Regions from separate parts of the Homo sapiens genome. Here regions 1 and 2 are each linked to region 3. Evidence: fine-mapped expression QTL. A gene starts in region 3. Each other region holds a variant in brackets. All regions are shown on one strand. Distances are from middle to middle. Region 1 overlaps LOC105370680 (a long non-coding RNA gene). Region 2 overlaps RCOR1 (REST corepressor 1). Region 3 holds the start of RCOR1 (REST corepressor 1).

Region 1 (2,840 bases), 63 kb before region 3:
CACGCCTGCCCTGTGGGATGGGGAGGGCTTGGGGAAGGTGCTGCTATGCCCTGAGTCCCCGGAGCCAAAGACTCCCGAGGGTGACAAGCAGCCCTGCCCGACCTCAGGCCCAGGGGTGATGGCTGTTGGTGGCTCCCAGGCTGAGTCACTGTAGCCTTCCCGTCACTCTCTCTGACACCCAGAGACTGGGTCCTGCCATCCTGGGGTAAGGCAGGGGGCAGGAAGGTGCTTTCGAGAATGTAGCCCTGGCCGGGCACAGTGGCTCACGCCTGTAATCCCAGCACTTTGGGAGGCAGAGGTGGGCAGATCACCTGAGGTCAGGAGTTTGAGACCAACCTGGCCAACATGGTGAAACCACTAAAAATACAACATATACTAAATTACTAAATAAAAAAAATACTAAATACAAAAAGTACTAAAAATACAAAAAAGTAGCTGAGCGTGGTGGTGCACACCTGTAATCCCAGCTGCTTCAGAGGCTCAGGCAGGAGAATCGCTTGAACCTGGGAGGTAGAGGATGCAGTGAGCTGAAATCGTGCCACTGTACTCCAGTCTGGGAGACAGAGCGAGACTCTGTCTCATAAATAAATAAATAATAAATAAATAAATAAATACGTAGCTGTGCCAGAGGCTTAGGGAACTGGGAGTGTCTTAGGGAACTGGGGACCTAGGAGGGGAGGCCACGTGGGTAGGGCTCCCACCCCACTCACTTCAACTGGACATTCTCAGTTCAGGAAGTGATTTTGTTATTGTTGTTGTTGAGCTTCTGAGTAAAATTTCCTGTGAAAAGGGGTTTAGCAGGCGGGCGCAGTGGCTCAAGCCTGTAATCCTACCACTTTGAGAGGTCAAGGCAGGAGGATCGCTTGAACCCAGGAGTTCAAGACCAGTCAGGGCAGCATGGTGAAACCTTCTCTACAAAAAAAAAAAAAAAAAAAAAAAAAAAAAAAAAATTAGCTGGGGGTTGTGGCGTGCACCTGTAGTCTCAGCTACTCGGGAGGCTGAGGTGGGAGGATCACTTGAGCCCACGAGGTTGAGGCTGCAGTGAATGGCAATCACACCATTGGACTACAACCTGGGTGAGAGAGTGAGACACTGTCTCAAAAAAACAAAAATTAAAAAAAGAAAGAAAAAGGAGTTAACTACTAAAAATCATTTCTGGGCCAGGTGCAATGGCAGAGTCCCAGCTACTCTGGAGGCTGAGGTGGGAGGATCATTTGAGTTCTGTAGGTGAAGTCTGCAGTGAGCTGTGAGCA[C/T]GCCACTGCACTCCAGCCTGGACAACGGAGCAACACCCTGTCTGAAAAAAATATAATAAATTAAAAATAAAGCCTGGGTGCAGTGGATCATGCCTGTAATCCCAGCACTTTGGGAGGCCTAGGTGGTCGGATCACCTGAAGTCAGGAGTTCGAGACCAGCCTGACCAACATGGAGAAACCCGGTCTCTACTAAAAATACAAAATTAGCCAGGCGTGGTGGCATATGCCTGTAATTCCAGCTACTCAGGAAGCTGAAGCAGGAGAATCACTTGAAGCTGGGAGGCAGAGGCTGTGGTGAGCCAAGATCGTGCCACTGCACTCTAGCCTGGGCAAGAAAAGCGAAACTCCATCTCAAAAATAAAATAAAATTAAAAAATAGCCGGGCGCTGTGGCTCACACCTGTAATCCCAGCACCTTGGGAGGCCAAGGCAGGCAGATCACAAGGTCAAGAGTTCGAGACCAGCCTGACCAACATGGTGAAACCTCATCTCTACTAAAAATACGAAAATTAGTCGGGCGTGATTGCACGCCCCTATAGTCCCAGCTACTCAGGAGGCTGAGGCAGGAGAATCGCTTGAACCCGGGAGGCGGAGATTGCAGTGAGTCAAGATGGCGCCACTACACTCCAGTCTGGGTGACAGAGCGAAACTGATCCCAAAAAATAAATAAATAGAATAATGAAGATAGAAATCATTTGGGGTCCCTGCACCCTACATAAAATGTCAAATCATAAACCCCAGGGCCTACTCTGAACCAAGACCTCTCTGTTCCTCACTGTACCTCCTCAGAGAAGAAACTCTGGAAGAGCAAGAAAAGTGTTAGACTCAGAGTCAAGCGGACCCAGTAGAAAACCCCAGAAAAGGACAGCTCAGACTCAATGGAAGCTTATTTTTCTCTCATTGTGAAGATGTCGGCCGGGCGCGGTGGCTCACACCTGTAATCTCAGTACTTTGGGAGGCCAAGGGGAGTGAATCGCTTGAGGTCAGGAGTTCGAGACCAGCCTGGCCAACATGGTGAAACCCCGTCTCTACTAAAAATACAAAAAAATTAGCTGGGCGTGGTGGCAGGCGCCTGTAATCCCAGCTACTTGGGAGGCTGAGGCAGGAGAATCACTTGAACCCGGGAGGTGGAGGTTGCAGTGAGCTGAATTGTGCCACTGCACTCCAGCCTGGGCAACAGAGCAAAATGCTGTCTCAAAAACAAAAACAAAAACAAAATCTGTTTAGAGGGGCCCAGGGCTTATATGGCAAGGAGTGTCACAGTGTCAGGAACCTGGGCTGCCTTTATTCCTTTCATCCTGTGGCTCTGCCGTACCTGGTTTTATTTTTTTTCTTTTTGTTTGCTGTTGTTTTTTGAGATGGAGTTTTGCCCTGTAGCCCAGGCTGGAGTGCAATGGCGCAATCTTGGCTCACTGCAACCTCCGCCTCCTGGGTTCAAGTGATTTTCCTGCCTCAGCCTCCAGAGTAGCTGGGACTATAGGCTCACGCCACCACGCCTGGCTGATTTTTTGTACTTTTAGTAGAGACGGGGTTTCACCATGTTGGCCAGGCTGGTCTCCAACTCCTGACCTCAGGTGATCCACCTGCC
Region 2 (2,500 bases), 38 kb after region 3:
TCATCTAACACACTTCCTTATTTATCTTGTTTATTGTATGATTCCTTCAACTAGACGGTAAACTGTGAGGTGAGAGGAGAGCTTTTTAAAATCTTGTTGCCTTAACAGCCTCCCCCCCCCCCACCACTGCTTCTAGAATAGTGCCTGGTGCAAATTTGCCTCTCAGTAACAAGTTTTCTGTTTATTTAAAAATACGGACGGAATTTCGAAGCTTTGTGATAGAGATAAAAAAAATGGACAGGAGCTTTTCCCAGGAGGTATACAAAGTATAGGTGTCTGGCCTGGAACTCTCCACAAAGAATACCTTTATTGCTCTACAAATGCTATTTGTAGTCTAAACATGGATGAGCTGATACAATTCTGAAGGCACCTTGCAGCCTTCTCTCCTTGCTTCTAGCTCCACGTGTGTGCGAGTCTGCATATGTGAGTGTAAGGGCAGCACTGTGTTAAAGAGATTTACAAACATCTTTTTAATCCTCATAACAATCCTACACCACACATGTCATCATCCCCTTTGTACAGACCATAAAACTGATATTTAGAGAGCTTAAACGTCTTGCTTGAGGCCTCAAGTGGTAAGTGGCAGAACTCAGCTTGAAGTGACTTGACTATTATTACATTATATGTGACCTCCTAGATAAAGAGATGCCTCCTTATTTTGTGTAAGGCAGAAGTGGGGAGTCTTGGGCAGATTACTTAACCACTGCTATAGTTTGGATGTGGTTTGTCCTTAGCAAACCTCATGTTGAAATTTGATCTCCAGTGTTGGAGGTGGGCCCTAATGGAAGGTGTTTGTGCCATGGGGCTGGAACCCTCATAAATAGATTAATGCCCTCCTGGGTGAGGGGTGAGTGAGTTCTTACTCCTTTAGTTCCTACAAGAGCTGGTTGTTAAAAAGAGCTGGCGCCTCTCTCTTGCTGCTTCTCTGGCCATGTGACCTCTTCACATGCTGGCTCCCCTTCACCTTCCGCCATGTGTGGAAGCAGCCTGAGGCTTTCACCAGATGCCCCATCTTCCAGCCGGCGGAATCATGAGCCAAGTGAATTTCTTTTCTTTGTCAGTTACCCAGTGTCATGTATTCCTTTATAGGAACACTAAAGGGACTAAGACAACCCCTTTAGGTCCTAATCATATACATACTTATAGATTCAAAGTATCTGCTTAGCATGTACTCCATTCAAAGCAACTGTTCAAAGGTAAGAATCCTATCAGGGATCAGTGCAGAAATACGACACCTTACACATTTCTCAGCTTTCACCTTCCCAGAGCTTCCTCGGATTGGTCCTCCTGTTAGTTTCCTGGATCTGAAGGTAATAC[C/A]TCATCCAGAAGATAAGAAGGGTAGTGGGGACTGTCACCACGAAGGAGCTTTCCTTTTCTGGTTCAAGTTATTTCCCAGCTCCACTCACCTCCGGACTGTTTCATGAAGAATTCCAGAAGTCCCCTTCTCCCTCATAGGAAAGTGCACCGAACCACTCAGATTTAATGGCTTAAAACAACTGCTGGTATTTGAGGATTTGTTCAGGTGGGCAGTTGTGGTTCTGGGCTAATGGGGGCCGGTGTCATCTGCTTGCTCCACTGTGATCTGGAACAGCTGGGCCTTTTTTCTTGGTTACTGTGTAGTCTCACGACCTCTCCTTTTCCAGTGAGGTCTGCAGTAGGACCTGATGGCTTATGCAGTGGTTCAGGGCAAACATTCCCAGAGGAAGGAAACAGAAACTGCCAGTTCTTTTTGAAGTGTAGGCCCAGAACTGGTATATCATCACTTCTGTCACATTTCCCCGATGACTTTGTGTCTCTGACCATCCCAAACTCACTGTGAGAAGTGACTGCATGGGGTGTGGGAGTAGGTCCATTGGGAGTGGACTAGTCCAGACCTTTTTTTTTTTTTTGAGACGGAGTCTTGCTGTGTCGCCTGGGCTGGAGTGCAGTGGCGCAATCTCGGCTCACGGCAAGCCTCGCCTCCCAGGTTCACGCCGTTCTCCTGCCTCAGCCTCCCGAGTAGCTGGGACTACAGGCACCCGCCACCATGCCCAGCTAATTTTTTTTTTTTTTAAGTAGAGACGGGGTTTCACCGTGTTAGCCAGGATGGTCTCGATCTCCTGACCTCATGATCCGCCTGCCTTGGCCTCCCAAAGTGCTGGGATTACAGGTGTGAGCCATCACGCCCGGCCCAGTCCAGACTATTTTTGAGAATAAAAAGGGGCCTATTAAAAATTATGTCAGGTTGACAGACATAAACTGGAACTGTCCTCACCTAGTCTGGACATGTGGGTATCATTATCATCTCTACAACTTGGAGAAAACAACACATAGGTGTGACCTTGAATCTTGAATCTGTTTTCCTGCAGTTCTCCTAATGTGAAAATGTGACTGCATTGAGTATGCATGTGATGTTTTAAATTGAATATAGCTTCTAAGCAGAACCCATCAACTCTTCTTTTCTGTTCTGTTCTTTACTTTTCTTTCTTTTTTTTCTTTTCTTTTTTTGAGACAGGGTCTC
Region 3 (2,831 bases):
GTTCAAGACAAAACCCTGCTTATTTACTCAGGCTTTAAAACCATAAAACTCCCAAATTCTCCCTGTAGCTATTTATATCCAGAGCTAGTCCCCAAATTAAGCTCAGGTTTGAAGTAACTTAAAAGAAAAATAGCCTTCCCTGCTTTAAAAAGATTTTCCGTATAGACCTCCACTGGTCTAATTACGAAGGGCGCGTAGTTTCAGGGTTGGCTGGGGGTAGGGCACCGGGACCTCCAAGGCAGTTACACTCCTCAGCCTCCTAACAGCTGTACGGCTGCCCGGTGGTCCCTCTCCAAGGCAGCGGCTCTCAGGCTAGCCTCAGCCTACCCCACCCGCCCGCACCCCGTGTTCTCCCTCGTGGGGGTGCCGGGGGGAGTAGGGAGGCGGGGCGGGCGGCAGGTCCGGAAAAGTGGCTGCCCTCGCCCCGAAAGAAGTTGACCCTCCTCCCGTGCCGAGAGCTTGGGATGAAAATAGCTTCTTCCTCTTTACCCTTCCTGGACCCCCGCCCCAGGACGACTGGGCCCCTTCATTCATCTTTCAGCGGCCACCCAGGCGGCTTGGGCGTCCCCACGCCGGGACTCTGTGCCCCGGGGACCCACGGGGACCCTCCCTTGGGCCTCTGAAGCCGCGGCGCACCCCGCACCCAAGCCACCCCGGGGGCCCCGGCCTCCCCCACCCAATTAGCGGGCAGCACCGCAGACCCGAGTCCCCACGCAGCTCGCGCCAGGGGAGGCGGCCGCCTGGGAAGCCCGTCCCCCGCGCCGCGGCCCCCGCCCCCGCCAGCCCCGCGTCCCCTGGGAAAGGCGGGGGCGCAGCGAGTTTCCCCCAATTAGTTTCCTCTTTGTATGGAGTCTTAGCGCGCCCGTACTCCTCCGCGCAGCGGAAAGTAGTCCCGGCCGGGCGCTCCGCGGCTTCCCAGCGCCAGACACATTTTACTTTGAGAAGTCGACGGGACTCTCAGCGGGGTCCTTCAGATGGGGGGCCAGAGGCTGCGGGAGGCGTGCGCGGGCAGCAAGGGCAGGGGCCGCGGCCAAGGGTAGGGGGCGGGGAGGGCCGCGAACTCCTCGCCGCTGCCTGGAGAGATGGATCATGGGGCGTAGGGAGATGGCAAACCTCAAACCACGTACGGCGGGCGATACGCGTCAACCGAACCTCGCCAACGGAAGCCCGGAGCCGCCCCTCCCCGCTCCCCCGCCCCGCCGCCCCGGACGGACGGGCGCGCGGAGCCAACCCCGCTGCCGCTGGCTGTCCAAATCCCACCAGAGCCAATGGGAGCGCGAGGGGGGGCGGAGCCATCTCGCGTCAGTTGGGCTGCGCGCCCCCCTCCCCCGGCGCCCCTGCAGGCCCCGCCCCTGCCTCCTCCCCTCTCCGCTCGCTGCTCCCGGAGTAGTTGGTGCCAGTGAAGTGAGGGCGGCGATGAGAGCGAAAGTTGCGCTCGGCTCGTCGCTGGGGGCTTGAAGCGGCTCCGCGCTCTGCCCGTTTGGGCCTCCCCCGACTCGGACTCGCGCCCGTGGGCTCCCGCCGCGCCCGCCCGGCCCCGCGCCGGCCCCGCGCCCCCTCCCCCGTCTCGGCGCCCCCTCCTCAGGAGCCGCGGGTCCCCGCCACTTTCGCACGGCCCCGGCCCCCGCCGATGCCGGCCATGGTGGAGAAGGGCCCCGAGGTCTCAGGGAAGCGGAGAGGGAGGAACAACGCGGCCGCCTCCGCCTCCGCCGCCGCCGCCTCCGCCGCCGCCTCGGCCGCCTGCGCCTCGCCAGCCGCCACTGCCGCCTCGGGCGCCGCCGCCTCCTCAGCCTCGGCCGCCGCCGCCTCAGCCGCCGCCGCCCCCAATAATGGCCAGAATAAAAGTTTGGCGGCGGCGGCGCCCAATGGCAACAGCAGCAGCAACTCCTGGGAGGAAGGCAGCTCGGGCTCGTCCAGCGACGAGGAGCACGGTAGGTGGCAGCCGCCCCCGCGGCCCCGGGCCCCGCGCCCCGCGCCGCGCTGACCGCCGTATTCTGCTTCCCCCGCAGGTGGCGGTGGCATGAGGGTCGGACCCCAGTACCAGGCGGTGGTGCCCGACTTCGACCCCGGTGAGTAGCGGCCCCGGCCGGCCGGCGGCGGGGATGAGCGGGAGCCCCGGGTCCCCGGCGAGCCCGAGGGGGCGGGAGCCCGCCGACAACTTTCTTTTTGTGCGTTCGCCCTGCCGTCCGTGGGGAGAACAGCAGGGCGAGGACGAGGAGGCGCACACGCACACGAGTGTTCTGCAAACGTGCCTCTGCACCCGGGGGAGGCCAGGTCGCCCCCAGCAGGGCCGGCGCCGCTGCCCCCTTGCGCCTCCGAGGACTGCGGGTGGCGTCGGAGGTGGCCACACCTGGCCTGGGGGCGCTGGGGGTCCCTGCGTCCAGGTGAGCTGCGCCTCGGCCAGGGGTAAGGGTGGCAGTGCCGGAGAGTTAGTGTCCTGCGAGCGCCCCGGACTTAGGAGGTCCCCAGAGACCCCTTTCTCGGAACCCTTCCCAAAGGCTGCTCCCCACGCCTTTGCTCCTCCTCTCAGCCTCTGGGCTCTTGCTGGCTCCTGACTGCCCTCCCATCCAGAAGGCGAGTAGAAGAACGACCCCCCAAAACCAGTCAATAAAAGAAGTGTGTTTTCCAGAGGGCGCCTGCCTGGGGAAGAGAGTCTCGCGTGTGGCAGTTGGATTTTAGGACCTATTTGTAAATGTGTGTATTTCCTTTTTTTTGGAGGAAGAGATTGTGAAATTGAGAAGCATCAGAAGCTTTAGCCTAACAAATGCTTTTCACCTACAAGAAAGCCCTACACCCTAGAATGGAACACTTAGTTCCCTGGCTGCTATTCT

Evidence for each region. PIP is the estimated chance that this variant, and not a neighbour inherited with it, causes the effect.
Region 1: its variant is the best candidate, but not a certain one, in a credible set for the expression of RCOR1 in T cells (TOPMed, PIP 0.67).
Region 2: its variant is the best candidate, but not a certain one, in a credible set for the expression of RCOR1 in whole blood (INTERVAL, PIP 0.79).

The regions. Positions count from the first base shown.
Region 1 is chr14:102,527,946-102,530,785 of GRCh38, forward strand. All of the region lies in intron 2 of LOC105370680 (a long non-coding RNA gene), which reads left to right. Among named protein-coding and RNA genes, the nearest start is that of MIR4309, 10 kb to the right of the region's middle. RefSeq lists an enhancer at 793-1,294. The variant C/T (reference allele first, on the strand shown) is at 1,254.
Region 2 is chr14:102,629,332-102,631,831 of GRCh38, forward strand. All of the region lies in intron 2 of RCOR1 (REST corepressor 1), which reads left to right. Among named protein-coding and RNA genes, the nearest start is that of RCOR1, 38 kb to the left of the region's middle. The variant C/A (reference allele first, on the strand shown) is at 1,318.
Region 3 is chr14:102,591,257-102,594,087 of GRCh38, forward strand. RCOR1 (REST corepressor 1) reads left to right here and starts at 1,393. Exons shown (of 12, transcript NM_015156.4): 1 at 1,393-1,931; 2 at 2,010-2,069. The coding sequence starts at 1,631. RefSeq lists an enhancer at 1-811 and silencers at 390-1,699, 1,760-2,369.